Regions from separate parts of the Homo sapiens genome. Here all the other regions are linked to region 4. Evidence: fine-mapped QTL for protein levels in blood plasma. A gene starts in region 4. Each other region holds a variant in brackets. All regions are shown on one strand. Distances are between the middles of the regions. Region 1 overlaps CNTN4 (contactin 4). Region 2 overlaps CNTN4 (contactin 4). Region 3 has its middle 19 kb from the start of CNTN4. Region 4 holds the start of CNTN4 (contactin 4). Region 5 overlaps CNTN4 (contactin 4).

What was found. PIP is the posterior inclusion probability: the model's chance that the variant is causal. The UK Biobank Pharma Proteomics Project read protein levels with antibody pairs (Olink). The fine-mapping took linkage between variants from a reference panel, not from the people measured, so its PIPs are less certain.
Region 1: its variant is fine-mapped to the plasma level of the CNTN4 protein (UK Biobank, PIP 0.99).
Region 2: its variant is fine-mapped to the plasma level of the CNTN4 protein (UK Biobank, PIP above 0.99).
Region 3: its variant is fine-mapped to the plasma level of the CNTN4 protein (UK Biobank, PIP above 0.99).
Region 5: its variant is fine-mapped to the plasma level of the CNTN4 protein (UK Biobank, PIP above 0.99).

Annotation. Positions count from the first base shown.
Region 1 is chr3:2,306,028-2,311,133 of GRCh38, forward strand. The region is part of intron 2 of CNTN4 (contactin 4); the gene reads left to right. Among named protein-coding and RNA genes, the nearest start is that of CNTN4-AS2, 160 kb to the left of the region's middle. The variant T/C (reference allele first, on the strand shown) is at 2,082.
Region 2 is chr3:3,036,076-3,041,181 of GRCh38, forward strand. CNTN4 (contactin 4) reads left to right here. Exons shown (of 25, transcript NM_175607.3): 18 at 1,104-1,253; 19 at 2,858-2,928; 20 at 3,962-4,196. CNTN4-AS1 (CNTN4 antisense RNA 1) reads right to left here. Exons shown (of 4, transcript NR_046554.1): 3 at 4,970-5,079; 4 at 3,586-4,307. Among named protein-coding and RNA genes, the nearest start is that of CNTN4-AS1, 23 kb to the right of the region's middle. RefSeq lists enhancers at 2,038-3,237, 2,472-2,581. The variant G/C (reference allele first, on the strand shown) is at 2,852.
Region 3 is chr3:2,077,594-2,082,699 of GRCh38, forward strand. No RefSeq gene overlaps it. Among named protein-coding and RNA genes, the nearest start is that of CNTN4, 19 kb to the right of the region's middle. The variant T/C (reference allele first, on the strand shown) is at 2,578.
Region 4 is chr3:2,096,419-2,101,524 of GRCh38, forward strand. It overlaps CNTN4 (contactin 4), which reads left to right and starts at 2,448. Exons shown (of 25, transcript NM_175607.3): 1 at 2,448-2,560; 2 at 4,140-4,221. LOC124909338 (a long non-coding RNA gene) reads right to left here and starts at 1,837. Exons shown (of 2, transcript XR_007095785.1): 1 at 1,729-1,837; 2 at 1,163-1,540.
Region 5 is chr3:2,811,103-2,816,208 of GRCh38, forward strand. The region is part of intron 6 of CNTN4 (contactin 4); the gene reads left to right. LOC105376926 (a long non-coding RNA gene) reads right to left here. Exons shown (of 3, transcript XR_001740398.2): 3 at 1,832-1,888. Among named protein-coding and RNA genes, the nearest start is that of CNTN4-AS1, 250 kb to the right of the region's middle. The variant T/C (reference allele first, on the strand shown) is at 2,202.

The DNA of each region.
Region 1 (5,106 bases), 210 kb after region 4:
TTCATCATTTGATGGACTTTGGGGTTGTTTTTATTTTTTGTAATTATAAATAATGTTGCTTTGAATATTGTGTACAAGGTTTTGTGTGGAATATGCTTTTATTTTGCTTAGATGTCCTAGGAGTGGAATTGCTGGGTCATATGGTAAAGCTATGATGAACTTTTTGAAGAGTGATAAATGAAACTGTTTACCAAAGTGTTTGCATCATTTTACATTCTCAGCAACAATGCATGAGGGTTTTTATTTCTTCCCATTCTTGTCAGCTCTATATGTTGCTAGATTTGTGGTTGCTTGTTTTTTAACTATAGTCATCTAAGTGAATGGAAAGTGTTTCTCATTGTGGATTTGATTTGCATGTCTCTAATTGCTAATGATTTGAGCATCTTTCATGTACTTGTTGGACAGTTGTGTATCATCTTTGGATAAATGTCTGTTCAAATTTTTGTCTATTTTTTAACTGGGTCTTTTTTCAATATTTAATTATAAGAGTTCTTGATATATTCTGGATATATTTTGGCTATGTAGTCTAAGTCGTCAGACATTGTTTTTTTTCAGGATGTTTCAGTTACTTGGAGCGTCTTGAATTTCCATATGAATATAAGGACCATCTTTATAATTTCTGCAATACAACAACCTTAAACTTTTACAAGGATTACATAGAATCTGTAAATCAATTTGGAGGTATTGCAATCTTAACACTAGTAAATATTCCATTCCATGAACACGGGATGTCTTCCCATTTATTTAGGTCTTTTTAAAATTTCTTTCAATGATGTTGTCTAGTTTTCAGTGTACACATCTTTAATATACTGATTTTATTAAATTTGTTCCTAAGTATTTTATTATTTTTGATATTTTAAATGAAATTTTTTTATTTCATGTTTGAATTGCTCATTGCTAGTGTATAGAAATAAAACTTATATTTATATATTGAACTTGTATCCTAGAATTTTGCTTGAACTTGTTTATTAAATCTAAAATTTTCTGTGGATTCCATAGGATTTTCTATGTAGAAGAAATTGAGATAGTTTTGTTCATTCCTTCCAATCTAGGCACATTTTATTTTATTTTATTTTTCCTAATTGTCCTAGTTAGGACCTCCACTACAATTGAATTGAAATAGCAAGGCCGGGCGCAGTGGCTCACGCCTGTAATCCCAGCACTTTGGGAGGCTGAGGCGGGCAGACCACAAGGTCAGGAGATGAAGACCATCCTGGCTAACACGGTGAAACCCCGTCTCTACTAAAAATACAAAAATGTAGCCGGGCGTGGTGGCGGGCGCCTGTAGTCCCAGCTACTGGGGAGGCTGGGGCAGGAGAATGGCGTGAACCCGGGAGGCGGAGCTTGCAGTGGGCCGAGATTGTGCCACTGCACTCTAGCCTGGGCGACAGAGCAAGACTCCATCTCAAAAAAAAAAAAAAAAATAGCAAGACAACCATTCTTGTCTTCTTTTTGATCTCACGGGAAAAGCTTTCATCTTTTACTGATAAGTATGATGTTAGCTGTGAGATGCCCATTTCTGCAGGTGCCCTTTTTTAGGTTTAGGATCTTCCTTCCAAGGATTTTCCTTTCTAGTTCCTTGAGTGTTTTTTTATCATGGAAGAGTGTTGCATTTTTTAAATACTTTTTATGCATGTATCAAATGATCATGTGGCTTTTGTTCTTTATTGTATTAATATGGTGTGCTACATTGATTGATTTTTATATGTTGAATTAATCTTGCTTTACTTGAATAATCTGGTCTATATCATTGCTTTACTTGAATAATCTGTTGTGGTCATAATTCTTTTTATCTGTTGCTAGATTTGGTTTCTTGAAAATTTTTGTGTCTATCTTCATAAGGAGTATTAATTTGTAGCTTTCTTATGATGTTCTTGTCTGGTTTGGGTATCATGGTAATAATGGGCTTATGTAATGAGCCTGGAAGTGTTTCTTTGTCTTCTAGTTTTTGAAGAATTTCAATAAACATTTTGTGGAATGTACCGGTGAAGCCTTCTGCTCATGGACTTTTTTATGAGAAGTTTCTTGATTACTAATTTATTTACTTTCCTTGACACAGGGTTATTCAGATTTTCTGTTTC[T/C]TCTTGAATAAATTTCAGTAGTTTTTGTCTTTCTAGGAATTTTTCTATTTTTGTCTAAATTATCTAATTTGTTGATAACGTAGTGGTTTATAGTAATTGCCTTATAATCCTTTTTATTAAAATATCTGTAAATTCTGTTGTTATCCCCCCTTTTATTCTCAATTTTAGGATTTTGAATTTTCTCAATTGTTTTGTCAGTCTAGCTAAAGTTGTGTCAATTTTATTTACATTTTCTAAGACCCAATTTTTGTTCCATTGATTTTTTTCTGTTGTTTTTTGTTTGCAATTCCCTTTATATTTTACTCCAGTCTTTATTATTTTCTCCCTTCTGTTGCTCTTCTTTTCCAGGGTTTCAAGGTGGAAAGTTAAGTTATTGATTTTAAATTTTTATTCTTTTTAAATATACGCATTCAAAGCTTTACATTTTCTTTGAAGCACAGCTTTAGCTTCATCTTTTAAGTTTTGGCATATTCTGTTATCATTTTCATGCATCTCAAAGTCTGAAAGTAATTTCCCTTTTGATTTTTTTCTTGACCCCTTGGTTATTTATGGATAAGTTATTTATTTTCCACATATTTACAAATTTCCCAAATTTGCTTTTAGTTTTGATTGCTAATTTAATTTTATTGTGGTCAGAGAACGTTTTATGATTTTATTCCTTTTAAACTCATTGAAGTTTGTTGTATCATTTTTTATATTATTTATAAAACCGTTAATATTTCAATATCTCTAAAATGTAGGAAAAATGTATATAAAATATAGTCTGTAGATCTTTTACAGTCTAAGTTGAAAAATGTTTTCAATGCACTTAAGAAGAATGTGTATTCTACTGTTTGGAGTGGAGTGTTCTATACCTGTTTGCTGGTCTAGTTTGTTTATGGTGTTAAATCTTCTGGATCCTTTTTGATCTTCTGTCTGATTTTCTTTCCACTATTTAAAGAAGGATTTTGAAGCTTTTCAACTATTATTGTTGAATTTTCTATTTCTTCTTTCATTTCTATCAGTTTCCCTTCCTCTATTTTGAGTCTTTGTTTTTTAGGTGCGTGTAAGTTTATAGGTATTATTTTTTACTGGCAGATTGACCCTTTTCTCATTATAAAATCTGTTCATCTGTACTAAAATTTTTGGCTTAAAGTATTGAAGTGTGATATTAGTAATGCTGTTCCAGCTCTTTTTTTGGTTACTGTTTGCATATGTCCTTTTCTGTCTTTTAACTTTCAGCCTGTTTTTGTCTTTGAACCTAAAATATTTCAGTTGTAGACAATATATAGTTAGATCATGTGTTTTTTAAAAGCCAGTGTATAAATATCTACCTTTTAATTACAGCGCTTAATATATTTATATTTGCTATAATTACAAAGTAATATTGATGCCTGTGTTTCCTACTTGTTTTTTATATGACTTATTTCTTTTTGTTTGCGACTCTTGTTTCTTCCCCATTTCCATCAACATCCCTGCAGTCCAGGCCTTCACATGGCAGGGAAATGACAGATGTATTATACCCTGTTTAGGTAATTGTTGCCATTTCAGAATGGAGTCCCAGTGATGCTTGGTCTTTTAATATATGAGTGGAAATCAGAATTTTTAAGTTTTTGGAACACTTCAATATTTTAATGTTGACAACTAATAGAGTTTTTAAAAAATACATTAGACATAGTTTGTGGAACAAGCAAGTTATGTCTAATGAGCACATGGAATCAAAGAGAAACCATTTGCCACCTCTGTTTTCCACATGTGGAAAGTCTCAGGACCAGCTCAATTCTGGCATGCTTGCTTTCATATATGTTGTTTACTGATACTTACATAAATATTTCCTATCTGTAAAATAGTGGGAAATAGAAATAGTAAAAGCTTACTTGTATTAAATACTTTATGGTATGCTGGTGATGTTTATGTCCCTACCTCTTTTTATATCAACTTATTTTAGTTTTCAGGTGGAATATGTTCAAATTTTATCAGACTCCAATCAAATACTGCAGTAGTTTCTAAGTCTTAGAGCTGTTGGTACCAGATGGATGGATGGATGAATTTGTGTTCTCATGATTGAGACATTACGATAAGGGGAAAGAGTATTACAGCAACAGACAAATGACTTGGCTTTAGCCCTCAACTAATTTATTGGGTGCTTTTCAAGTTTCCTACTCTTATAAACTTCAGTTTTCTCTTCTATAAAATGAAAAGATTAGCCTTGATCATTTTTAAAGTCCCCCAGGCTAACATTGGCTATGACTGACACTGTGGAGCTATGGGATCTGCATGAGAAATTTTTCTCAGTCAGTACAGCATGCACAAGGGAGAATGGCTTTATTTTATGTCACAATGCAGAATGTCTGTTGTTTGCTATCCCTAAAAGTGATGTCCTCTATGATTTACAAAGCCTATGGAGACATTTGCAGCATAAGGGACCGCCTTCCCACTTTTTCACCTCAGCACATGCTACCTCATCACACTTTCTCCTTATTTTTAGTTTTATGCCATCATCTGCAGGTAATGTTTGACCTAAAACCTACACCATTACTTGTTCCCTTTTAAAAATGGCTTCACTTGTACCCCAATGGCATATCGAGCACCTGTGAGACTTCAGGTGTTGTTTGATAGTTTAACTAAAATTACCATGATTATCTGTGTATATGAAAGGCTTTTAACCCTCCACTACCTAAAACTCACTCGTTCTGTGCTCTCACTTGTTTTCTATTATAATACAGAAATAAAAGGATTGCATTTGAATACTGAAAAATTGTCTTACTGCCAGTGCTTGAGTGCACAAATCCGGTTAACTCTCAAATGATAGCTATTCAACCTGTCTTTCAAAGCAGTAGATGTGTTTTGAAAATTTCACATTTGATTTATAAACAAAAAGACTCCCTTGACTTTATCCTCCTGTTTTCCAGACTTTTTTATTTTTTAAGAATGAAAAATAACAGCTAAGGAATGTGGCCTGGAATGAAAATATCCGAATCAGAAGCAAACAGAATAAAAACACACCTACCTTTCCCCCTGAAATAACATTAATGTCTTATTGGAT
Region 2 (5,106 bases), 940 kb after region 4:
CTCCAAATTGACTCATTTTCTTATTTAGATTTCATTTAAGGATAAATTGGATGAACAAGTAGTTATTACAAACAAAGATACACACTCCTCTAGACAGCAAAAGTAGGCTATATGGCCTTGATGTTTTGAAGGAGAATATGCCCAGTGTTGAGCAATTCATATAAATCTTGTTGATTTTAACCCATTTGTTTTTTTCACTTTAGTTTACTAATCCTTAGAAATGGGTTTCTGTGTTTCCTTCTGTAATCACTGAGTCACAGGTGTGCTTTAAGAAGGAAATATGAGAAAAATATAGAAGTTAGGAGATGAATTCTAGACCTGACTGCTAATCAGCTGATCTCTATACATCTTCATTTTCCTCTTCTGTTAAATGGGCACAATAAGAATTGTTTAAGAATGAATATAGGCCAGGCGCAGTGGCTCACAACTGTCATCCCAGCACTTTGATAGGCCAAGGCGGGTGGATCGCTTGAGCCCAGGAGTTTGAGAGCAGTCTGGGAAATGAGGCGAAATCCCGTCTCTACTAAAAATACAAAAAAAAAATAGACAGGCATAGTGGCATGCACCTGTAGTCCCTGCTACTCAGGAGGCTGAGGCACAAGAATTGCATGAGTCTGGGAGGTGGAGGTTGCAGTGAGCCGAGATTGTGCCACTGCACTCTACCCTGGGCATCAGAGAGAGAGAGAGAGAGACCCTGTCTCAAAAAAAGAAAAAAAAAAAGAAAAGAAAAAAAGAATATAATACTTTTACCTTTCTCAGAGGATAGTTGAAATAGTGTGTCTGGCACTATACAATAAATGCGGAAACACATGTGAAGGGGTGATAGTAATGATTGAGTCAGGTAGTTTGGGGTCTTGTGGACTGTGTGTCTTTTATGATGTCATCTGCTGGTATCTGATTAGAGTGTGTTAGTTTAACATACAGAGATAGTTCTGAGATTACCTCACTGAAACAACTGTTGATGCAGCTAATATCAGAACACCTACACTGCCCTGAATACAATAATGATGAGGATGGATGGATGTTCCTATCTTCCTAACGTAATCTCTGCATTTGTTTTCTGAGAACCTATGAAACAGCCCCCACCTTTTGTTGTCTTTCAGTCCCAGAACTCATTGATGGGAAGACATTCACAGCGACCGTGGTGGGTTTGAACCCTTGGGTTGAATATGAATTCCGCACAGTTGCAGCCAACGTGATTGGGATTGGGGAGCCCAGCCGCCCCTCAGAGAAACGGAGAACAGAAGAAGCTCGTGAGTAGCACCCGAGATTCAGATCATCTGTTCTGCCAGCTGCTGTTCCTTAGGAAAAGCGTTTGAATTCTTGCTGCTCTTCAGCGCTCATGCGGCTCTGTGTTAGCTCACCCTTCCCTTTAAATGTTTATAATGATAGAAATCAGGCCAGGAGAAGCCCAGCTGAACACGCAACGGGTTTCAATCAAGAGTTGTTTTCTTCATTAGGTCCACTTGTACAGCAAGAGACACACGGTGCTTAGTCCTCTCAAAAGCCAGCCCTTTCTTCATTGGTTCATTTGTCACCAAGATTCTAACAGAATTTCAAAAAAAAATCCCACATTTCAAATAAAATTATCTCACATAAGTAACTAATGGCAAAGAATAATTTGTGACTGCTCTGGACACAGCCACCATGGGGTAATCCTGTTTAGAATAGAAATAAAAAATAATTTCTTCAGAAATGTTCACTTAGATTATCTTTCTTAGGGTATAAACCATTCCCAGAAACGAAGATTCAGAACATCGTGCTCATTCGAACAAGACCAGTCAGCAATTCAGTATGGCCCTCTGCATATGCAGCTTGAATGAGCACGGGGAGAGAAGAACAAGTTCATCAGGGTCAGCCGTACTTTTACTTAGCTGGTGTAAAGCAAGAGGCCTACATGTGCCGTCTTTTATAGAGTTCCCGCCTGTAGAGAGGCCAGTGTGTTGAAGGAATAATAAGGTCCCTACACAAATAGGAGTTCTGACCCTACTCTCAGAAAAGCAAAAACTCATCTAGATCTATTTGATTGGCTTTAACCAAGGAGACATACCCAGTCACCAGCCACATACCCCAGTGAGACCTTTTTAAATGTGGCCCGGAGCCTTTCAGTTACGTGATGACAATATAGCTAGTCCCCTGCTTTCTTTTCCCCTTCCAAAACCATAATTGAATTAATTCCCCTCAGCAATCCTGAGGTGGAAGCTCGCATAATTTCCTCTCTTTTATAGAGAAAACTGGTGATCAAAGAGGTTAAGCTCAGTGAGCCGGGGGTCAACTTCTGTCTGCCACTTCCTTCAACACTCAGATCAAAACTCTTCCTCCCAGAAGCCATTCGCCCACCCCAGCTCTGAGCAGGGCGCTACTCCGGAACGCCCCCCGCTTCTCCATGCTGACTGTTCCTTACCCTGGTTGTCGACCTTGCTCTAACTGGTGCAGGCGCTCCTCCACTCCAACCAGCTTGTAAGCTCTGCCTGGGCAGAGCTTGTACTCTTCCCTTTGTGTATCTCCACGTGGCTCATAAACGCATAACCAAACATTAGGACCAGACTTCAGTCCTTTCCTCCCTTCGGGAACCCCTCGGCCTCTAGGGATGGAGCTGAACAATTGGTCAGACGTGTCAGATAACACGTGTGCCTTGTTGAATGGGAAACAGGTAATTAATAGCAGTCTCCTTGGTACATTTCACTTCCTCGAGCGGTCGCCGTGGGCCCCTTGACAATGCTGTTGCTGATCTCCAGAGACAAAGGGGCGTGCCTCAGAGTACTCACTGAAAGTGAGTCACCTCTGCCAGGCAACCTTCCTGGCCCTCATTCGCCTTTGCCGCCTGACATAACTTGTTTTTTGTCTCCTT[G/C]TGCAGTCCCCGAAGTCACACCAGCGAATGTCAGTGGTGGCGGAGGCAGCAAATCTGAACTGGTTATAACCTGGGAGGTAAATGAATCACAGAATAAAAGGAACGTACACGCATCGAAGCTATTTTATTATTTTCCTCCATGTTAGACATAGCTGGGAAGTTTCCTCCTCTGTTTTTAACAGTGAAAATTCATTTGGGTTCAGACACTCCCTCTCACGTAGCTAATGGCTAGCAGGAAGGACGGCACTTGCCCATCCATTGTTGAGGCAAGTTTTAATTCAATCCATCACAGTAAAAACAATTATGAAGGGAAGACAACACACGTTACAAAAAAAAATAAAGAAGGCTGTTTCAGAGAAAACTAGTTTTTCTTTTCTTCCTGAATTGCTGCATGGCCAATTGATTTAAAACGTCTGCCAGCAATAGATTCAGTGCACCAGCACAATTTCCTGGCAATTGGCTTTGCTTCTAGAAGGGGCCCTCTTTTAGGAGGTATTTTTTAAAACAACCTGGAGGAAAGTTAGTCACCAATTTATTAAAAATTGGCTTTGAGAGAAGAGGTGGGAGCTTTAGAAAGGGTTCTTCATGTTTTTGAAAGATTCTAAACAGCCCCAGAAATTAAAATCTCTCATTTACCCAAAGCACAGCAGTGAAAGAAATCACTCATCCCTCCAGCTGAACTCTTCCCTCTGAGAGGGAGGATCTTCAGCCAAGATGGTTTTTCTTCCTTCAGTGAGATCTTTTGTCTATTTGGCAATGGAAGAAGATTAGTATTAGAGGATACGTGTTGGAAATGTGGTTTTTCAGGAGACCGATGTCCAGTGTTTTTTTTTTTACAATCATTTCCAACCATTTCAGAGCTGGGTCTGCCCCATCAAAGAGCAAGCTCTGGACTGCAGATCCTCATTACGTTTTCAACCCTGTCCAGTACATCATAACTGTTTAAGATAGACTGACTGCAAGCCCTAAATTTAAAAGACTGTTAACAAAACGCCAAATAAGATGGGTGGAGAAGGATGTAGACAAGAATGTTACAAGGGAAACAAAAACGATTTTTGCATTTGAGTGAAACTACTGTGATTTCTGAAGACCACCTTCCTTCTTTCCCAGACGGTCCCTGAGGAATTACAGAATGGTCGAGGCTTTGGTTATGTGGTGGCCTTCCGGCCCTACGGTAAAATGATCTGGATGCTGACAGTGCTGGCCTCAGCTGATGCCTCTAGATACGTGTTCAGGAATGAGAGCGTGCACCCCTTCTCTCCCTTTGAGGTTAAAGTAGGTGTCTTCAACAACAAAGGAGAAGGCCCTTTCAGTCCCACCACGGTGGTGTATTCTGCAGAAGAAGGTATCGTTTATGCTGCCTAGATCATTGACTGTTAATATTTCTTCAATTCTAAAATGTGGATTGTAGCACGTACAATCAATTTCGCATGGTACATGTATCTTGAAGGCATACCTGATTTGAGAAGAGGATAATGTAAACAATTTGGTTCGCTGTCCACCATGAATCTCTTGAAAAGATAGCGACTGCTCTGTATATGAAAACACTTGGCTGTCCATTATTGATTCCATTGCTAAGGACCAGAATTGCAAATACCATATAAGATCTTCATATCTATCTATATGTTATCATTACTTTCAAAAGAATTTTATTTTTGCCTTTAAGTGAATATCAAAATATAATTTGCATTTTCTTACCACTTGTATTTTCATAAAGCATATGGTACTTGTGGCTCACACCTGTAATCCCAACACTTTTGGGAGGCCAAGGCGGGTGGATCACCTGAGGTTGGGAGTTCGGGACCAGCCTGACCAATATGGAGAAAACCCATCTCTACTAAAAATATAAAATTAGCCAGTTGTAGTGGCACATCCCTGTAATCCCAGCTACTCAGGAGGCTGAGACAGGAGAATCACTTGAACCCAGGAGGCGGAGGTTGCGGTGAGCCGAGATCGCACCACTGCACTCCAGCCTGGGCAACAAGAGCAAAACTCCATCTCAAAAAAAAAAAAAAATCTCACTTATTAAAGAAAAGAGTAAGTCATGAAGCAGTGTGATTGCGCTCACTGTCATCCACACCATCATTATGTTTAACATTTCTCACACATTATTATCACCTCCATGCTATCCCTGCTCTCGGGATGCCTCTCACACAGTCTTCGTTACCTTTGGAGTTCGTCTATGTTGTTTTAAAGATGATGCTCAGAATGGGACCATGTTAAAACATCTGAAAGGTGAATCATTGATTTAGAGT
Region 3 (5,106 bases), 19 kb before region 4:
TGGGTGACAGTGAGAATTTGTCTCAAAACGGAAAAAACAAATGAAAGAAAGAAAAACAGAGAATGTTTTAGACGCTTAATCTACTGGAGGAAGAGTATGAAATCCTCCAGTTCCCAAGACCCAAGCAAAGATTCACTACTTCAGGGGAAAGTGATAGTAGCAAAATCCACCTCCCCAGGGAAAGGGGCAAGAAACCTTCTCACACAGAGAATCTTGTCTGACTACAACAGGGCTACTAAGCAGGAACACTGAGAAAGCCCTAATCTGAGCCCTGGGCTCACAGGATCTGCCCAATAAGTGACTACTTGAGGATGATGATTGTATTAGTCCATTTTCACACTGCTATAAAGAAATATCATAGACTGGGTAATTTGTAAAGGAAAGAGGTTTAATTGACTCACAGTTCCACTTGGCTGGGGAGGCCTCGGGAGAGATAGAACCATGGTGGAAGGTGAAGGGAAGCAAGCACCTTCTTCACAAGGCGGCAGGAGAGAGAATAAAAGCGGGCACAGGAAAAAGTGACACTTTTAGAACCACCAGATCTCATGAGACTCACTCACTATCATGAGAACAGCAGTGGGGAAACTGCCCCATAATCCAATCACTTCCATCCCTCAACAAGTGGGGATTACAGCCCTTGACACGTGTGGGATTCCAATTTGAGATGAGATTTCGGTGGGGACACAGAGCCAAATGATATTTTATTTCCTTTCATCCATGGGCAAAGGTTTGTAAGATATTTTCAAGAAAATTTAGAGTGCTAATATAGTTTCAGTTTCACAAATCTTGAAACTGCTAGTTTTTCCCCCAAATTTGAAACTTTTTTTTGGTTTATGCAAGACATTTTGAACAAGTTTTAATAAGGCATTTAAACATCTCTTCCCTTTTCTAAAATACATGCCTCTTTAATAATTGGAAGGAAACCATTACTTTTTTAACACAATGTCGAGTTCAGAGCTAGATAATGAAGTTAAACAAGTATATTCTTCCTTTAAGTTTTCTAGGTAGATGGTGTCTTTAAATCTAAATTAAAATATCTTCGCATACTTTGAGGGCATAAGCTTTAGGAGTTTCTTATAATTGCTTACATTGACTTTTCCTAGGCTGTAAATTCAGTCTTGCCTTACAATTAAAATGATTTCAATTACATTTGTGGTTTACATTTAAAAACCTATGAAGTACATTTTTTTCCTTTATAAAAAGTATGCACTGGTTTTCTTTAAAAGCATTTCAAAATCTTGACCATAAAAGCAAATAGCTGATTTCTTTTTAACAAAAACATGAACAAGTTACATATTTTACATGCGAGGTAACATTGGGGTATTTATAACATCATTACCAAATTCTAGTTGGTCTAAATAAGTTTCCTAAAATAATCTCTAGTTTGGAACATACTGAAAAGAGGGAAGCAGCACAGTATAATAAAGTGCTTGACTGAAAGTCACCTGATCTGGCTTCTTTTTCTGAGTCTATCACTAACTAGCTGGGTGACCCTCTATGTCTCAGCTTTTCCTCTGTGCAGTTAAGAGTTTGGATTATGTTATCTCTCTGGTTTCTTTCATATCCGACATTCTTTATGCACGCTATTCAATTGCCTTATTCTATATTTAACCCCTTTTTGCTGTCTCTAGTGAAAGCATCCAGTTTTATAAGAAGAAGATTAAATTTGCATTAGAATTACCCAGAGATATTTATTAAACAACAGATTCCTGGGCCGCAGTCCTATAGCTACAATTTAGTAAGTATGAAGTAGGGCCCAGTTACATGAATTTTTAACCATCATGGCAGGTGATTCTGATTTGGTGCTTACAGGTACAAGAGCCTACAATATAAAATGCTTTGTATTTTAAGGGTAAGGGTAGGATGAGTAGGGTAGGACAGGTAGGGTATCCATCCCACCCCGTCCCCTTTCCACTGAAAGCCATTTTCATAGCTCAATACAATCCTTCTCTGCCCTCCTCACCCTTCAATGTCCCGCATATCCTCATTCTTTTGGGACGTGGTACAACAGCTTGAGAACCGCTGAACACAGGTACAAGCTATAACACAGGCAAGCTGGGGAATGCTATGGTGGCCGAGGCCCAGGTGGGGTGTCGCTGCTGGCCAAGGGTCCCCAGCTTGCAAAGTGACTGAGAAGAAATATCCTACATCATTTACAAGCATCAGAGAGTAACAAGGCAATAAAGAGCTCTATTTCTCTAAGGCCATTTCTGATTCTGGAAGAGGTGCTGAAAGACAGGGAAAATTATCAGTATTTTTAACAGCTTCATGGAGTAAGGGGAGTCTAGGACTTTTAAAATATAAAATGCTTTATATTTTAAAGTAAGTTCTATTATCCAGCCTAGAGAAATCTAAAGCCTATATTATATCAATAGACATGGAGAGAATTTGATTGACTTGGGATATATCTATGAAATCTACTAAACCAGACTTTCAATTTCATCAATATGTTGAACAAGGATAGAGGAATTTAGGGTGAAGATCATGTTCTTTGCTTGGGAAGATGGATGGACAGTAAAGCCTTTTACTCTGACAGCAACTAAGGAGTATGACCAAAAGGGGAATGAGTTAAGAGAA[T/C]AGTCCAGAAAATTGGCACATTTTAGACATTCTTGCCTATGACACATTCACACAGATTTGTTCTGAAGGCAAATGGACATATAAGTCCAGTTCTCAGGAAAAAGGTTTAGAATGAGGATAGAAATTTAACATTTATCCACATCCAGATGGTAATTAAGGTCCCCAAAAAGGATAAAATGTCCAAGAAAAAATAAGCTGTGAGAGAAGTTATTTTAGGGGATATAAATAACCCAAATATATTTAAGGTAGTCGATATCCATATTTAATGTGCATGAAAATCATCTGGGTGTTTCTGCAGTTTCCAAGGGCCTTATCAAAAGAAATTCATAGTTTCTTAAATTGGGCTGGATCCCGGAGTCTAATTTTTAACAAGCACTGCATGTGATTCTGATATAAGGGATCCTTAACCACAATCGGAGGGACACTGAAGTATAGGCTTAATAGCAGACATTTCTCGTTACAAAGATAGATGAATAAATAGATATGTTTGGACATAAATATATGTTTGTTGAATAGAATTTGCATTTGATCCAAAATAATTACTCTTGCATGTCACAGGCTAAATAAAAATAATAACCATCTATATTTATGAACTATAGTAGCTTTATCCTAAGCACTAGATTGAGAATTGAGAAAGAGAAAGCATCTTACATGCTTTGTCTCTACATTATTGCTCCCTAGTACTTTACTGAGTGCTTGGTACATAAATGCTTAATATATATTAATTGAGCTGAATTGTATGAATAAAATTATTGGTAGATTTTGCTTTTCTTTTCTTTTAAAATAAATACCTATAATAGCAAAAAAAAAGAGCATTATCGAATTAGAAAGCCTAATACTGTAAACATATCAATTTCCCTCAGTCTCTCATTCATTACATGTGTGAACACGGTTAAGTTTCCTAATCAGTAAAACAGGATAATAACAGAAACTGCTGAGACATCCATGCAGTTAAGGGCAGAGTAGGTAATTAACACCACCCATCTCCTTGACGACAAACTGAATAAAATCTTTTTAAAAATATGCTTGTGATAGAGGCAGGAGGCAGAGAAATTCTAGGCAGACAGGGGTGGGTCCTTGGTGAAACCCCACCTGCAAGACGAAGACAGTTTAAAGCCTGAAAGCCAAGCTACAAGTTACATCCTTGGACCCGACTGAGAACTTGTCTTTCTGTTTGGCATGCTTTCCCCTGACTGGTCTCCACCCTTCACCTATTTTACATATACCTACCCTTTGCTAATTGGTTTTTCTACACTGTCTTGCCCAGCTTTGAATGGTGTCTTCCCTTTAACCTTTTTTGCATACTCACAAACCAATCAGCACACACTCCCCATTCTGAGTCCATAAAAGGCCCCAGAACTAGTCACATGGGGAACTCTCTCACCTTCTGGTAGGGGATCAATCTCCTTGTGTCTCCTCTCCACTGAAAGCCATTTTCATTGCTCAAGTAAATGCTTCTCTGCCCTCCTCACTCTTCAATGTCCCGCATATTCTCATTCTTTTGGGGGATGGTACAAGAACTCGGGAACCACTAAACACAGTTATAAACTATAACACAGGTGAGCTGAGACACATCAGTGTGGCCGAGTGAGGTCCGGGCAGGGTATCACTGCCAGCTGGGGATTCTTGGCTTGCAAAGTGACCGAAAAGAAAAACCCTACATCATTTGCAGGCATTGGAGAGCTAACAAGACAATGAACAGCTTTAAGTAGGAAAGTCAGGAAGGTTAGAATGGACTTGGAGGCTGTTGTTTCTCAAGGCCATTTCTGATTCTGGTAGAGGTGCTGAAAGACAGGGAAAATTATCAGTGCTTTTAACAGTTTCATGGAGTAAGGGGAGTCTAGGACTTCTAAAAAGAGTAGGTTGGTAAACCCACCATTCTGTAGGTTAGGATCATGTCAGGCTACTCTTTAGGAAGAGTATGACCTGTAATCCTTACAACAGGATTAAGGTAAACTGAGATTGCTATTTCACCTGGCCACCTGTCAGAATCAACTATAAATGCTGTCTGGAAAAATGCCATATCATCCTAGGTCTCAAATCATTTCTACAACTTTTCAGACAAAATGTCTCACACTGAATCAAAAATAACCAGTCACATGAGGAAGAAAGACCACATGGAGCGTTAGAGAACAGACAATAGAAATAAGAACTGATTCATAAGGGTTCTGAATAAAGGAGCTATTAAAACCAGACTTTAAAATAATTAAGATTATTACACTCAAAAAAGATTAGGATCTTTGTTTTAGTATCAAATAGAATTGAAAGCACAAAAATTGGAGTTACACACTCTTTGTATATTAAGAAAGCAGAATTAGGCATAGCTGGAGAGAAAAATAGTAAACTAATATGTGAATCAGAAGAAATTATCCAGATTGAATATTAAGGAGCAAAAGAAAAAGGAAAGAGAAAAATATGAAGGAGATAGCCATAAACCTAGGAAATAAATTAAGAAGTTCTAACAGATAAGTCATTGGAGTTCAAAAGGAAACTATAGAATCAGGCAGGAGCAGTATCTGAAAATATAAT
Region 4 (5,106 bases):
TGGCAGCTGAGCATCGCTTCTTTGCTGCAGGATGGAAAAAAGGGACTGGATTATTGGCTGCATTTTAAACTAGCTGCTGTTCTAGAGAAAATGTTGGGGAGGGACTGAACAAGCTTAGCACTGGATCAGTGTGGGGGTGTGTTGGTGAAAAGAAAAAATGCCTCCTCCTAACTTAACGTTTAACTGATATCCCCTCAACACGACCCAAATCTGTCTCTCCAGATACACAATGTCTGTTTTCCTAACTACATGGTGAACTGTGGAGCAAGTCTTGGTCATGTTTAGTTTGTTTCCCAGAATCTACTAGAAGACAATGCCTAGCATATAGCAGGCACAGAATAAGGGCCAAAGGGGAGAATGGAAACAAAATATGTACATTTGAAATTTAGAAACACAGTTAAGGGACTTTGCCTGAAATTGTCATAAAACTTTGAAAATTGCTTCAATGTATAGTCCCAGTGGGAGAATGTGACAGCATATTTTATTCTTTGTTCTTTTCTGAAATTCTGTGTCCAGTCTAAAACACGACATTTCCCTTTAATGTGTTAGGAGTATGCATGACTACACAGGAATATTTTCTGGAGAACTTCTGGTGAAGCATATTTTGATAAACAGTCTTACTAAAAGTTATATATATGTACTTTTAATTGACTAGTTGCAGAGAAATAATCAATGTAAAAAAAAATCATACATAGTACAGGTAGTAAAAGTCACAGTTCCGGCAGAAGCACAAAAGCCTTCAAAGTGAGTGGGAACCTGGGAACCATTGATCCTCAGTGGCTGTTTACCATGGAAAACACCTGCATCACCAACATTCCAGTTTTGCAAAAGTACCTCTATTACAGACACATACCAGGCAAGGAGGGAGGAAAAAGCCTGAAAATTTCTCTCCAAGTTTAAGTAATCAGGAAACTTTGGTGGGGAGGTTGGGGTGGGGTGGGGGCGGGGGGGTAACTTCTTTATTTAGCATTAATCTCAGCAATCATGAAAGTCATGGAATTTCAAGTGATGAAAAATTTGACCACAACAATACCTATCACTAGCCTGGTTTTGCCCACTTCTCGAACAGGAATTATAAAGATAATAATTAATTCTAAAAAGCAGAAGACAAAACAAACAAACCAAACCAACACTGAATGAACTAATAAGGCTGCTGCATATATATGTTGGAGTTGGATGTTTATTTGCTTACTGCAGTAGTTTAAAAATAGTTTTCCAGTTAACATCTTTTCCACATAGTGGAGATGTCAGGGTAGGTTTACATGATTGCGTAAATGGTCAGAAGTTGTTTATGTAGCTCTGAACTGCTGAGAGATGAGCAGGAAGACCTGGGTTCAGCAAAACCCTTGGGGCTTTTTCCCAGAGAGAGAAACAGAGGCTCCTCTCTGGGTTGCTGGAATGCTTTCCAGACGAATTCGACTGGGTTGGCTTTTCTCTGCCTGTCAAAGTCACTTTGCACAGTGCTGGTGAGGGGCTGGGGCATTGCTGCCAATCTCTACGGTTACCCCGAGGTGTGGAGTTGCGGCGAAGGGAGCCACTTCTGCAAGGAAACAGTAGATTCATAATGTAGAATGACCGTGGCAACGTCGTTCAAAGCACATTCTTTCGAATAACAAGGCTTTCGACATGCCCCACCCCCGCGCACAACACACCACAAATTGATCCTTGTACCTAATTTACAGCAACTGTTCCCTCTGACCTCCCCCCGCCCCCGCCCCACATTCCAACCTGAAAGCACTTTGCGTGGATGAGACTTCAGGTGTGTAACGCAGCCTGTCCAGCCAGTGTCCTCCGCCTAAGGACAGGCAGGTAAAAACCTACCAAAGCCCCCTCTTCTGGCCTAAGTTCAATGCCACCCGCCCACCCACATTCCCCGGTTCAGCAATTTTCAGCCCAGACGCAGAAGCATCTGTTTCCCTGGCCAGGGCGCCTTAACGATCCCCCGAATTCCGCGTCTCCCGGAGGCCAGAGGTTTGGGTACCCAGGAAGGTCGCGCCTCCTCGTGCCCCGATACTCGGGTTGTAAAGGGAGGAGACATCGCCTCGGCGCATCCCTGGCCGCTGAACAACGCAACCCCTACGTCCCCGCACGGGAATCCGGCTGATAATCTCCTCTTGCCTGAGAATCGGGCCAGGCGCCCTTTACTAATTTCGCGCGCTGGGGACCTGGGGCTGCCGCCTCTCGGCCGCGCGGGGCAGGTGCTGCGTCCCCAGCGCTCGCCTCCTCCGGCCGCGCACTGAGCATGCGCGGGCTCCGGGCCTCCGGCGCGTCTCCCCGTCCCCGCTCGTCTCCCGCCCGTTCCCACCCGCCCGCGCCTCTCCCCTTCCCCGAGCGTCTCCCCCGCCCCGCGGCTAAGGAGCCGGCAGCCCGAACTCCGGCGCGCCAGGTTTTTCCAGCCGCCGCGAGCGCCGGGAGGGAGGGCAGCGCCGCGCCAGACGGAGCCCGGGGTTCGACGCCAGGATTGGCTGCAAGTAGGGAGCTTTCGCCGCCGCCCCGGGCCCCTCGGACTGTGCCGGCGCCGCACCCGAGGCTCTCGCCAGCCCGGCGCCCCGGTGCTGAGGTAAGTGAGGCGGCAGCTGTGCGGGTCCGGCTCCTGCGTGGGCGCGCGATGCCCCGGGGACGCGGTCGCGGGTGTGGGGGGGAAAGGGCAGGGTCCGCGCGGGTTGCCCGAAGGACAGGGGCGCTTCCCGGGGCTCTGACTCCCGCGGGGCCGGGCAGCGTCTGCGGGGCCGTCCAGCTCAGAGCCCGGAAGCCCTGCAGGGTCGGGGAGCGGGAGCTGAACGCCTGAGCGCGGAGGACTCAGGGCCCCGACGACGCCACCGTCACCCCACAGCGACCCTTCTTCTCCTTCTCAGCCGGAAAATAAGTTTGTTGCGCTGCGAGGCAGCCACAAAACAAGGAACCGAGAGCCCGGAATGCTGCGGGAAGCCTTCAAGTCAGCTCCTCCGACTGGTTCGGGCTACTGCCCCCTCTCCGTGCGCCCTGGCCTCTGGCGCCGGGTTCCCGGCGGGGCTTTTCTTCTGACAGCCCAGTCACAGCCCGCAGCAGAGGGACGCGAACCTGGGGAGTGGAGGGACCTGGGACTAAAGGAACAGGAGCCCGTAGCCGTGGTGGAAGGAGCCGCGTGGAGACGGAGGCTGATGTCTGTGGCGCCCGCTGGGTGCCGGGCTGGCTGCTGAGCGCTGAGGCTGCGGCGGCGAGCGACAGGCCAGGTGCCTGCTCTTAGGGAAGGTACCTGGCTTCCCCAGTCTCTGCCGCGGGAGCCTGTTGGGTGGCATTCGTTTCCAGCAACTTCTGGGGGGTTTCCAGTTTCTTTCGAGAGGCAAGACAACCGCCCCGTCCCCTCCCCGGGCCCAGACGGCGGCGAACTGTGCGCCGGGCGCCCCACAGACCCCAATCCACTCACTCTCCTTCTGGAACGCGGGGCTCAAAATCTTCGTGCATTTTCTCTCTTGTGCTTCGTGTATATGTTTTACTATTTATGAAGGGTGTGGAGGTGAGGGTAGGAGGACGTGGGCTCCTGAATCCCTCTGAACCAGCCAGAGAGTCGGCTGCATGGAAACATTTCGCAGCGAAGCTCCTGCGAGGAGGCGGCTTCGCGCGTCGGGAAGATCAGGCGGTTGCTTGCTGGCCAGGGTCTGCAGATTCGGTGCGAAGAAGCTGGCGGAGGTTGTGTAGGGCGAGTCAGTGTGACTGAGCACCCTGGGTGTGTGGTCTGCGTGGAGGAGAGTGGGCCGGATCTTGAGGTGTGTTGGAGGTTTATTTGTAAGAGGAGTTCCTGAAAGGAATGTCGTGGAACTTTTTCTAGTTTTCCTGCTGGAATCAACATAGGGGCGGGCACATGTTTGTCAGAATAACAGTGGCATTTAACTGCATGGGAAGCTCTTTCAATTTTCTGTAGTGGGAGCTGGATAGTTCAAGGAGTAACTCCACATAACTGAGTCGTTTGGATACCCACACAAGATAATTTGGAACGCGCTTGTATTTTTTTGTTTTTTGAGATTTCTGGTTTATGTCCTTTAGAGAGTGGGGTAGGAGCGTAAAGACTGTATAGGTTGCCTATGAGCAGGTCCATACAATAGCGTTCCCAAGTCTGCCTAATAGCAAGTTTGTTCTCTCTTTCTCTCTCTCTACCCAAGTGGGTGAAAAAGAACAGTGTGTCATGAAGACAGGCACCTGGAGGTGATTTGGGTGGCATTCATGAGAAAATTCACGTTACCCGTAAGTTTATTCTTGCTATTTTTATCTTGATTTCTTTAAAGATTTTGTGGGAATATCTGCAGTGGGTCGCAGGAGTAGGTAAGATTGCTAAGGATCAAAAACAAGTTTCATGAGAATATTATTTTTGCTACCTTATAAAATAGCTATTGATTTGTTTGTTGAAGCTGGTTTCAACTGCTCTGTCTTGTTGAGGAGAGATGATGCTGATAAACGTCATTATTTTTCCATCTGAACCCTGGGAGGTAGCTGGCAAGGATGGAAAAACTGACCTTTTCAATTAAAGACTAAGAGTCTAAGAGAAGTGACTTGGATAAGGGTGCATGTCAGAGCCACATGTAAGTTTCAACAGAGGTAGATTTTCCTATTTGCAGTTTTTTAAACAACACTTTTCAGTTTCTTTGAGTTGTAAAACTTTTCAAGTCAATTGGGAGTCAATGCAGTACCTTTTTCCATGGTCATTTCATATTGGCAGGTAATTAAGAGTGATTAGAGAACAAACCTTTCAAATGATGTTGGATTTTTTATCATTCACTTATTTTACCTACTTCTCTCTCCTTTTTGTTCAAAAGTAGGTCTTCTGATTTCTTTTCCGATCTAAGCACTAAATCTTTTGGCTGCAGTTTTTCTTCTGAAATGTATACAGGGCATCCGTTCCTTCAATTTAGGTCTTAAAAAAATAAAGCTGCTCAGCAGAAAATTCCCATGCATGGTACTGACTTTTCTACAAGTTTGTCTGATCATGATTTTAACTTGTTGTTTCTTCTTTGTTATATTTGAGGACAGACATAATATGCATTAGCTTCAATCTCTCTTATCTTAAAAATTAATATTTTGTAAAAACTTGCTTTTATATTATTTTAGTTGAATAAGTCTATTTCATATGAT
Region 5 (5,106 bases), 710 kb after region 4:
AGACCTAGCATAAGATTTTGGTCCCGGCCAGGTGCGGTGGCTCACACCTGTAATCCCAGCACTTTGGGAGGCCGAGGCAGGCGTATCACTTGAAGTCAGGAGTTCGAGACCAGCCTGGCCAATGTGGGAAACCTGTCTCTACTAAAAATACAAAAATTAGCTGGGCATGGTGGCAGGTGCCTGTAATCTCAGCTACTCTGGAGGCTGAGGCAGGAGAATCACTTAAACCCAAGAGGCAGAGGTTGCAGTGAGCTGAGATCACACCACTGCACTCCAGCCTGGGCGATAGAGCAAGACTCAGTGTCAAAAAAAAAAAAAAAGTTTTGGTCCTTTACTTTATTTTTATTTTATTATTTATTTATTTATTTATTTATTTGAGGCAGAGTCTCGCTCTGTCGCCCAGGCTAGAGTGCAGTGGCCTGATCTCAGCTCACTGCAAGCTCCACCTCCTGGGTTCACGCCATTCTCCTGCCTCAGCGTCCCGAGTAGCTGGGACTACATATGTGCCCGACCTCCTAGTCCCTTACTTTCGACTGCCAACAAACTGGGGTAATTAATGTCAGGTTTTTGTTTTTGTTTTTAGACGGAGTCTTGCTCTGTCACCCAGGCTGTAGTGCAGTGGCGCGATCTCGGCTCACTGCAACCTCCGCCTCCCAGGTTCAAGCAATTCTCCTGCCTCTCAGCCTCCAGAGCAGCTGGGACTACAGCACATGTCACCATACCCAGCTAATTTTTGTATTTTTAGTAGAGACAGGGTTTCCCCGTGTTGGCCAGGCTGGTCTCGAACTCCTGACCTCAAGCAATCTGCCTGCCTTGGCCTCCCAAAGTGCGGCGATTACAGGCATGAGCCACTGTGCCCAGCCAAAAATCACATATATTTACATCCTTTAAAAAAGGTAAGGCCGTTATCCTCAGCAAATTGACAGAAAACGAAATACCACATGTCCTCACTTACAAGTCGGAGCTAAGATGAGAACACGTGGACACATAAAGGGGAACACCACACACTGGGGCCTGTTAGAGAGTGGAGGGCGGGAGGAGGGAGAGGATCAGGAAAAATAGCTAATGGGTACTAGGCTTAATACCTGGGTGATGAAATAATCTGTACAACAAACCCCCATGACACAAGTTTACCTGTAACAAACCTGCACATGTACCCCTAAACTTAAAAGTTTTAAAAAGGTAGACAAATATCAATTTTACTGTTGTATAGAAACAATATTTTTAAGTAACACAAGCATTCTCAGACCAGAAGATTATAGGAAGAATTTCTCATGAAGAATTATCTGAATCCAGGGTATAGTGCGTATATCTTAAATATAAGTGTTATAAAGAATACAGTTCATGCAATATAAAGGATAAGATATCTGATTCACTTCAGCATCAATCTTGACTTGAAAGCATAATTAGGACTAGCAGAAGAGGATATATTTTAAGTCTTATCAGGTTTGTTTTTTTTGTTTTGTTTTGTTTTTTTGTTTTTTTGCCACAGTAGTGTTGACTTGGCCACTCTAATGTTACTTTATCCGGTGGAAGTTCTCCCAGTGAGTCACTTTCTGTAAACTTTCCTTTGGATGCTCAAAAGTCATACTGATAGTGCTAACATTTATAGACTACTGACTTTGGACCAGGCAGCATCTTAAGTGCTTTACATGCATGATCTTAATCTTCAGAAAGTCCTATGAGACAGGAATTATTGTCCTGACATTAGAAGTGAGAATTGAAGTTCAAGGAGATTAACTAACTCACCTACATCATACAGGTAGAAAGTAAGAGTGCTAAGTTTGTACTCAGGTCCTTCTGACTCCAAAACCAGGGTGTTAAACCATCAGGCAGTTCTTCCTCTTGCTATATACTCTCTTACAGGGAAGTCCAGTCTTCCTTCTTCCTAAATGGAAAGAATGTCAAAAATACGACTTTGAAACTCAGGTTTTGTAAATTTCGATTTATTTTCACTACAAGTCTCTTCAATCCAGGAAACCATAAAGTGTGCATCCACACACACACACAGGGAGCAAATGGCAGAGAGTCAAGACATAACTTTAAATTTGCTGCATGATAGTGAGTTTTTAAAGTTACTCTCCAAAAATACTTCTTTTTATAAATGGTGCAGTCATCATTATGGAGATCATATTCATAACAAATGTATCACTTGACCATTTTTCCAAGTTGATGTTCATCTCCTTACTGATTGCGTCTTT[T/C]AAAAGGAAGCAATAACAAAGGGAACTGGTGCTGACAATTTCTTGTTCTAAGGCCAACCTGGGAGAATTAATAGAATCCAGGTCTACCCAAGTCAGGAAAAAAGTGAATTGGTATTTTTTTACTTGCATTAAATAATACATGTATTACATGCATGGTTACTGTATCATTTTTCCTTTTTTTCTTTTCTCCCTTCTCTCTGTGGATTCTTAACAAACTATGATGTGTGATATTATCTCATTAACCTTTCCTGGCCATTTTAAAACTAAACTTTTTATACCTTCCTCTGAGTCATCCCACCCTGTGAATAGCTTCAGCTCTTCCTGTCCATATGTGTAATGGCTAGTCCATTAATTATGACCTAAATAAATTACTCTTTCTTATTTACTGTTATTACTTCTCAAAAGAGATCTTGGACCCTCTTGATTTTATATCCTCTAGACTATAATCAGGTATTTATGGTAAGATACTTCTTCCCCAGCTCTAAATATTTAAAAATTTCCCAGACAAAAAATACGTGGACATTTTCCCCTTGCTCTCTAATTTACTCCATGGCCTGAATTCCAAATGTTTTCCTATATTAAGACTTTTTATTATTGATAGCATATTGCAGCTTTAAGGCTTTTGTACACGTCCACTCCTCCAGGAATGTAACTGCTAAATCACTTCCTCTCTGGTCTCAATGAGGTAACACATTCCAAATACTATAGCATGTTTTCTAATCTCATTTTAAAATGAAATTCAGGTATTACATTCCATAGGAGAATAAAGGACAGCTGTTTTCACAAATATGATATGAAAACACATCTGCCACACAATTGTACAATCCTTAGCACATGGCTGTTGGAAAAAGTTATGTAAAATGCTGACAAATGAAATCAACACCAAAAAGTAGAGGTATTTATTTTTTAAAAATCTACACATCACATGTCAATGAACCACATATAAAGCTTGAAAGACAGGCTATTTTGAGAAACAATGGTGCACGGATGTTAATTCCTTGTTTTACATACACATTATTTATTCAATACTATCTTTGGTGACCAATTGCTAAACGGAATACAAGCCAAGTGTAATTGTTTAGCTACCTTCCTAACAAGGCAGCAATCCTGCTTCTTAATAGAGTTGTTTCTGTTTATTTTCTCCTTGTTCAACTTCACACTTTGCACCTAACATTTACAATCTCCATGTTGAGTGCCCAACCACAAAGAAAAGCAGAGGAATAGAAGATTTGAAACCAAAGTACTTATACCAACCCATCACACTATGTGTTGAAATGTGGATTTCTTTCCATATTCACTGAGTGTAAATGTTATTTAAATGAACGTTTTTGTGTCCTGGCATGGCAAGTAACTGATTTGAAAGCTCTTTTTCACTGACTTTACGAAATCAGTGAAGATGCCACAGATTATGGTGCTTCAGAGCAGTAACTTTGGAGAGAGACAAAACATGAGTTTGTATCTTCTGGCCACTTCCTAGGCACGTGAAGAAGGTGCTGCACCTCCGTGAGCTTCAGCTGTGTCACCTATAAATTGGGAGTTTAAAGTGTAATGGAATTCAATGAGATCAAATAAGAAAAGTACTTGGCCACATGGTATGACTGCAATATAGTCTGCAAGTCAATTCTATTGTTGCTATTAGTGTGATGGCCACAGTGACAGAGCATTATCCATAATGTATATTCCGTCTCATAATGCCTGCTGCTACTGATCATTACCCAAGTACCAAGGCTTTGGAGATAAAATGACTCTGGATCCTCATCTCTCACCTTATACAAAAAGCAACTGAAAATGGATTAAGGACTTAAACCTAAGACCTGAAACTATAAACATTCTAGTAGATGACATTGGAAAACCCTTCTGGACATTGGCTTAGGCAAGGATTTCATGACCAAGAGAACCCAAAAGCAAATGCAATAAAAGCAAAGATAAATAGCTGGGACCTAATTAAACTAAAGAGCTTTTGCATGGCAAAAGGAACAGTCAGCAGAGTGAACGGACAACCCACAGAGTGGAAGAAACTCTTCGTCATCTATACATCTGACAAAGGACTAATATCCAGACTCTACAACGAACTCAAACAAATCAATAAGAAAAAAATCAAACAGTCCCATCAAAAAAGTGGACTAAGGACATGAATAGACAGTTCTCAAAAGAGGATATGCAAATAGCCAAAAAACATAGGAAAAATGCTCAACATCACTAATGATCAGGGAAATGCATATCAAAACCACAATGTGATACCGCCTTACACCTGCAAGAATGGCCATAATCAAAAAACAGTAGATGTTGGTGTAGATGCAGTAAACAGGGAACACTTCTACACCACTGGTGGGAATGCAAACTAGTACAGCCACTATGGAAAACAGTGTGGATATTCCTTAAAGAACTAAAAGTAGAACTACCATTTGATCCAGCAATCTCACTACTGAGTATCTACCCAGAGGAAAAGAAGTCATTGTTTAAAAAAGATACTTGCACATGCATGTTTATAGTGGCACAATTCACAATAGCAAAATCGTGGAACCAACACAAGTGCCCATCAATCAATAAGTGGCTAAAGAAACTATGGCATATATATATATATATATGATGGAATACTATGTAGCCATAAAAAGGATGAATAAACAGCATTTGCAGTGACGTGGATGAGATTGGAGACTATTATTCTAAGTGAAGTAACTCAGGAATGGAAAACCAAATATCGTATGTTCTCACTGATATGTGGGAGCTAAGCTATGAGGACGCAAAGGCATAAAAATGATACAATGAGGCCGGATACAGTGGCTCACACCTGTAATCCCGGCACTTTGGGAGGCCAAGGCAGGCAGATCATGAGGTCAGGAGATCGAGACCATCCTGGCTAACACGGTGAAACCCCGTCTCTACTAAAAATACAAAAAATTAG